Homo sapiens: one gene and its partner. The protein of the gene in region 2 purifies or fractionates together with the protein of the main gene of each other region. This does not show direct contact. Each region holds a gene or a part of one and is shown on either strand. Other genes may lie near its edges.

Evidence for each region.
Region 1: the proteins of RTCA (region 2) and COPB2 purify together in Homo sapiens (co-immunoprecipitation; one large-scale study listed by IntAct). This does not show direct contact.

Annotation. Positions count from the first base shown.
Region 1 is NC_000003.12:139,358,496-139,362,147, reverse strand, and holds part of COPB2 (coatomer subunit beta'), read left to right. Parts: intron 1-852; coding exon 853-1,067; intron 1,068-2,785; coding exon 2,786-2,878; intron 2,879-2,969; coding exon 2,970-3,150; intron 3,151-3,335; coding exon 3,336-3,404; intron 3,405-3,652. UniProt on the Homo sapiens protein: The coatomer is a cytosolic protein complex that binds to dilysine motifs and reversibly associates with Golgi non-clathrin-coated vesicles, which further mediate biosynthetic protein transport from the ER, via the Golgi up to the trans Golgi network.
Region 2 is NC_000001.11:100,276,094-100,279,745, forward strand, and holds part of RTCA (RNA 3'-terminal phosphate cyclase), read left to right. Parts: intron 1-1,164; coding exon 1,165-1,223; intron 1,224-3,652.

The DNA.
Region 1 (3,652 bases), on a different chromosome or scaffold from region 2:
ATTTTGCAAGATAAGAAAAGATGTAAAATAGTATGTAAACTAGTCTGGAAAGCCTAAGAGTACAGACATAGCAGTTATTTGCCAATGTCTGAAACTAACTAAAAATATGTTGGTTTTGAAAGACAGCCCAACCCCCTCATCTTTTGGTGTTGAATAGAGCAGGCAGTCAGAGAAGGACAGTGCTGCCTTGGTGGCACTCACCTTCAGCAGCAGATGCTCTTAGCACATCTGGTCTAAATGTTTGAGCTAAATGAGCTGTTCAGGGAGGCTCAAGTGGGAGAAATGTTAATACCATTTTTGTAATGATATTTTTATAGATCTTTGTATATTGAGGCTCCCAATTGTTTCAGACTGGCATTTACTGGTAAATTAATTTCAGATGTGCAAAATAAATTTTAGCTACGTTAAGATCATCTAAACATGCAGCATTTTGAGTTCTGAAAAGCTACAAGTGAGACATAATATTATTGTGAAATATTTAAAGACGTAGTTTTGTATGCTTTCAAAAAAGTGATATTAAATCACTTGTTAAAATAATTGCAGTCTAATTGCCTTAAAACTCCAGTGAGATGGTTTTACTTTCCCTGTGTAATTATAAGATAAAAGTATAATGGGTTGACGATAATTATTTGCACATCATTAAAATTGATTTGTGTTTAAATTCATTTTGTATACATTAATAATTTCCATTTCCTCACTGTACATTTTGCAATGCCATTCTTATTTTGATAGAGCCAACTTAACAAACACAGCTCTTTTTATAAACATTGTCTGCACAGTTAACAGAATAATGTTGGAAATGTAAATGCTTATTTCTAAAGATATTTTAACTTGGAAACTCTTTTCTTACAGTCAGAACAGAAGTGGAAACAACTTGCTGAACTTGCCATTAGTAAATGTCAGTTTGGCCTAGCCCAGGAGTGCCTGCATCATGCACAGGATTATGGGGGCCTGCTGCTTTTGGCCACTGCCTCTGGAAATGCTAATATGGTGAACAAGCTAGCAGAGGGTGCGGAGAGAGATGGCAAAAATAATGTGGCATTCATGAGCTACTTTTTACAGGGCAAGTGAGTATTAATTTAAAAGATTAATTAATTCTACACTGAGGATGGTTTTTGGAGAGGGAAGTGAAGAATGAACCCTGGAGAGAACTGATGAATGGCCAAATGGTGTTGAATAGACGGGGCAGTCAGAACAGGACAGTGCTGCCTTGGTGGCACTCACCTTCAGCAAGGGATGCCCTTAGCACATCTATCTAAATGTTTGAGCTAAATGAGCTGTTCAGGGAGGCTCAAGTGGGAGAAATGTTAAACACCTTCTTCAACAGCCCTGCCAGTTAATGGTGGAAGCATTTTATTTTATGATTGCAGGAGGCTATTGAGCTGCTCTAGTAGGTACCTGAAGGGCAGGTGATTTTACCCAAATTGGATAACTTTGATCCATTTATGGCAAGAACAAAAGGGGATAAGTATGCCACTTACTTGTAGATTTGAGCCCACTATAAAGCATAAAGATGTCTCATATTTTTAAGTCTAACCGAGTTAGCATAAACCAAATCATTTGGACATTAGTTGGCAGTATTATGAAATAAAACACAAAAGTATTCTTTCCTTTTTTTTTTTTTTTTTTTGAGATGGAATCTCACTCTGTTGCCCAGGCTGGAGTGCAGTGGCATGATCTCGGCTAATTGCAGCCTCTGTCTCCCTCGTTCAAGCCCTTCTCCTGCCTTAGCCTCCCAAGTAGCTGGGATTACAGGCATGCGCCACCACACCCGGCTTGTGTTTTTAATAGAGATGGGGTCTCACCATGTTGGCCAGGCTGGTCTCAAACTCCTGACCTCAAATGATCCGCCTGCCTCGTCCTCCCAAAGTGCTGGGATTATAGGTGTGAGCCACCACGCCCAGCCCGAAAGTATTCTTTAACCTTCTCCTACATACTGATTTTTTTTTTTTTTTACAATCCCATACTTCGCCATATAACTTTGAACGTGCACCCCATTGTATGTATGTGAATGTATTTATGAATTTATATACCTGTAAGAATAGACCCTATTCCTTATCCATAATTCAAAAATCCAAAAATATTCTGAAAACAGTTATAACTGTTTTGATGGCAAGACCTGAGCTGAACTGCTTTAGTATTTTTAGTTGCTTTTATACCAACTTGGTACATTTTTATTGCATTTAACATTCCTATGTAAGTTATTGCAGTATTAATGTTTGTGGCTTTTTCATGCTGAGGATGTAAGGTAATACATAGTATACATACTGTATCACCTTTCGAAAATCCAAAAAATCCTGAATTCTGAAACATATTGTCCACATCATAAAACTTGCACAGAAAAAAAATGAAATTAAAATAGAAGAAAAAATAAGACACCATGGTATTCTGCTGGGCACCACTGGCTTGTCTGGCCCTTCCCATGTTGGAGACACTGCCCTAGATATTTGTCTTGTGGAACTGAATTTCTGCTGGCATATATCCTTATGCCTTTAAAATTTGCTAATCTAACCTGCCTTAACTCCTCTTGAAAAGCCCCTTTAGGTTCTTAGGAATTATAATAATTAAGTTAAGTAGATTCAAAGTAGTCAGGAAAGCTGTCTTATCCCTCATACCCTTGCAGTGTGTTGATTAACAACCATTAAAAGACAAGTGACAGAAATGAGATATATGTGTGAAGATTGGGGAGATTTTTGGCTTTGTAACACTAAATTTACTTTGTGTTAAGTACCCATTATTATAGTGTTTATTCTTGGTAACAGTACCTCTCCTTTTTAATGTTTAGGGTTGATGCCTGCCTAGAGCTCTTAATTAGAACTGGACGGCTGCCAGAAGCTGCCTTCTTGGCCCGAACTTACTTACCCAGTCAGGTTTCAAGGTACAGACTTTTAATTTTAGGAAGAAATGTTTCCAATAAAAAGAGAGCACATTTACTTAGTCTCTCTTTGGTTCCATGATGTCTATAATAGGGTAGTGAAACTCTGGAGAGAGAATCTCTCAAAAGTCAATCAGAAAGCAGCAGAATCCCTTGCTGACCCAACAGAGTATGAAAACCTGTTCCCTGGATTAAAAGAAGCCTTTGTTGTTGAAGAATGGGTGAAGGAAACACATGCTGATCTGTGGCCAGCCAAACAATACCCACTTGTCACGGTGAGTGGCCAGGATGTCAAGCTTCATTTATTGTAACTACAGGGTGGAAGTACATTCAGGACTTCAGATTTTGAACTGCTGTCTTCTTTTAAAATTAAGAGCTGATATCTGGGATTTAGGCCAAGTTCATAGGTAAATTATGATTTCAGAATATCTCATTTCATCATTGCTTTATTCTCTGATAGCCAAATGAAGAGAGAAATGTCATGGAAGAGGGAAAAGACTTTCAGCCCTCAAGATCTACAGCTCAACAGGTCAGTAGAGCACTTCATGTGATAAATTTGGCTGAGATGGTTCACTTTTTTTTTTTTTCTTTTGAGACAGAGTTTCGCTCCATTGCCCTGGCTGGAGTGCAGTGGCGCGATCTAGGCTCACTGCAAGCTCTGTCTCCCGGGTTCACGCCATTCTCCTGCCTCAGCCTCCCGAGTAGCTGGGGTAATTACAGGCGCCCATCACCGGTCCGGCTAATTTTTTTGTATTTTTATTAGAGACAGGGTTTCAC
Region 2 (3,652 bases):
CAAAGTGCTGGGATTACAGGCATGAGCCACTGTGCCCAGCCTCAGTTTATATTTTTAAGGACATTCCTACCTAAAACACCAGTATGATAAATTAAGACAATTATTCTGAATTTTTTCTGAGGATGGCTTGCCTTTTGTTACCTTGTAAGATCCCTTTCCCTTATATAGTGAACTTAAACGTTTAATCAGAAGTTAGGCTTTAAAGCTAGTCCTATGAGAATATTTCCAGTTGCATAAAATACGTCAAATGTGAAATCAGTTCACAAATAAATATAGCAAAGAGCTTTTTAAAACCAGACTAGAGGCCAGGCGCGGTGGCTTACACCTGTAATCCCAGCACTTTGGGAGGCTGAGGCGGGCAGATCACAAGGTCAAGAGATCAAGATCATCCTGGCCAACATGGTGAAACCCTGTCTCTACTAAAAATACAAAAATTAGCTGGGCGTGGTGGTGCACACCTGTAGTCCCAGCTACTTGGGAGGCTGAGGCAGGAGAATCACTTGAACCTGGGAGGCGGATGTTGCAGTGAGCTGAGATCACACCACTGCACTCCAGCCTGGCGACAAAGCGAGACTCCATCTCAAAAAAAACCAGACTAGAACTATTATGTTAATTCAGTTAGGAGTTATAGATTTAAGTATTAGTACAAATTCTTTAACTGATGTTTTTGAAGTATAAAAGTACCATTTTTGGATATTTAAGTTCCAAATCCTCTCATTCAGAATTTCCATTAAAAGGTTTAAAGTAAACGCTTGCTCTACTTATGATAACACTATCTAAAAACCGTAGAACAATACCAAAGTCTCTGCATAACGACCTTTTTATTTAAGATAATTCTGAAACACTTTATAGTACTGTGTGCCTGTGAAATGGTACCACTTAGTGCTAATGACATGTTAACTTGTTGGGGGGCATGGTAGACATTTCTTAACCTGTGAATTAGAATCTGGTGTGACTTCTCCTGGTCAAGTGGTAAAGGATACTACTGGTCTGATTAAGATAGACAATGTTAATCATACCACTCTATATGAAGAATTTTTACTTTTGCAATTTGTTGCCCAGATTTAGTTCTGCCTATTTAATAGTCATTGTTCTCTTTTGTTGTATTTGCATAAATTTGGAACATTTATAGCAAAGGTAGTAATAACTTTTTTTCTTGCATAGAATTATTGCTGAGACCTCCACTGGCTGTTTGTTTGCTGGATCATCGCTTGGTAAACGAGGTAAGATAAATGAAGGGGGTCCATAGTTCCCAATGCTACTGCAGAATTCTTTAATCCATCAGGATTGGAATGTTATAGAATGATGGATGAAAGTTTAAAAGGATGTAGTTAATTGATTCTCTTTTAGAGTCAATTACACTTTCAGACTTTCAGTCTTTCTCCCACCTTTATACTTTGGAAAATTTCAAACCTATGGAAAAGTTGAATGACTAGTTCAACTAGTCATCCATACAACCTTCTCTTAGATTCACTAGTTATGAACATTTAGTTTGTTGTGTATATTTCTGAGCCATTTCAATATAAGTTGCAGGTGCCATGTCTCACCCCTGAATACTGCAGCATATATGTCCAAAGAGCAATAACTACATAATTATAATACCATTTTTACACCTGAAGAATTTGTTTTATTCTGACACACCAGATAGCTTCATACATAATGAATTGTTTCCAAAATATTATTTAGAGCGATGTGGAATTTTTTTTTTTGGGGGGGGGCACATAGCATTTGTTTCTCAAGTCTCTTTAGTCCCTCTTTTAATACACAATCCTCCCATTACCTTTTTTGTTGTTGTTCATTTCATGATACTGACATTTTTAAGAGTCCAGGCCATTTTCTCACAGAGTTTCCCACAATTTAAATTTGTCTGATTGTCTCATGATATATTCAGATTAAACATTTTTATTAAGAATACTACATAGGTGATTTTGTGTACATTCCACTGTATCACGGCAGGGGGCACATGATGTTAGTTTCTCCTTTATTGGTGAGGTTGAGTGTGATCACTTGGTTAAGGAGGTGTGTCCTGCAGATCTGTCTGCCATGAAAGTTCCTTTTACCTTTGTAATTAACTAGTGATCCAAGAAAATATTTTGAGGCCATCTGGTTATCCTGCACCCATAACAGCTTTCATCCAGTGGTTTTAACATCTATTGATGATTCTTCTCTGCATCAGTTATTACATTGGTGATTTCAGAATTTTGAATGTTTTTGTGAAAGGGAAATTTGTTTAAGGTTTGGTATATTAGAGAGAGAAGATACATACATGCATGTGTTTGTTAATATTTAAAGTTACTTTTACCAATCAGGCAACTTTTAGGTGAACTTCTAGTTGTTTGCGTGGTCATTGATTGCTTTATTCCTACTTTGTAGCATCTTTAAAAATGCTTACCAAGCTGGGCACAGTGGTACACAACTGTAATCCTAGCACTTTGGGAGGCTGAGGTGGGAGGATTACTGAGACCAGAAGTTCAAGACTATCCTGGGCAATGTAGTGAGACTTTGTCTTTGCAAAATAAATAAACAAATAAAAATGTTTACCCTAGCTATGCTGTTAAGCCACACTATTACTACTGAATACAAAAAAAATTAGGAATTCTTCAGTTTGCTCAGTTGGTAAATCTAGAACTAGTTGGGCATCAAATCTGATCAAGAGAATAAATAAAATCACCATTTCCAGTTGAACTCACATAAATGAATTCTGTCTAAAACTGTGCTATTCAAAATGTGGTTGGCAGACAGGCAAACTTGTCAGCATCAACTGGGAGTTCGTTAGAAATACAGATTTTGGGACCTACCTCAGACGTATTGAATTAGAATCTGTGGGAGTGGGGCCCAGGAATCCATTTTAACAAACTTTCCAGGTACTTTTAATGTATACTGAAGTTTGAGAAATAGTGATCTAAAATATGTATTTGGCATATACTAATTACATATTAGGTGCAGTGAGGAATCAGTGTGGATATTGAGCCACTGCATGCACTATCTACAACAGTCTTTAGAAGCAAAGAGAATACAAATATAAAACGGAGACTAGGAGCAGACATATTACAAGTAATAAGTACTTAGCAGGCATTGGGAGAAGTGTGAGTTTGTTTGTATTACTGGTTACCAAATGTGCCAGGTACTGTGTACTAGGGATTCAAAAGTGACAGCTATGATTCCTGCCTCCTGGGTTATTCTGGCAGAGGAAACAGACCAGTTCTATGATAGTGGTATCCCCAGGGTACCATAGGAATACAGGGGAAGCAAAGGGAATCCTTCTGGGGACTGATTGACACCAAATCTGCCTTCTGCCATTTAATGGTCCTCCAGTGGGTTCTGTGGGTAAATAGAAGTTAGCTGGATAGAAAAGTGAGAGCTAAGGAGGAAGGACAAAGAAATTTGACATACAAAAGTATTCTGGGTGAGGTGGCATGCAGCTTTAGTCCAAGCTACTCGGGAGGCTGAAGCAGGATGATTGCTTGAGCCAGGAGTTTGACAACAGCCTGGCCAACATGGCAAGATTCCATCTCTTAAAATTTTTTTTTTTTTAAGTAGCCCCATATGGTGGCTCACACCTATAGTCCCAGCTGCTCAGGAGGCTGAAGCGGGAGGATTGCTTGATCCTAAGATGTTCAAGGCTGCAATGAGCTATGATTGCACCACTGCA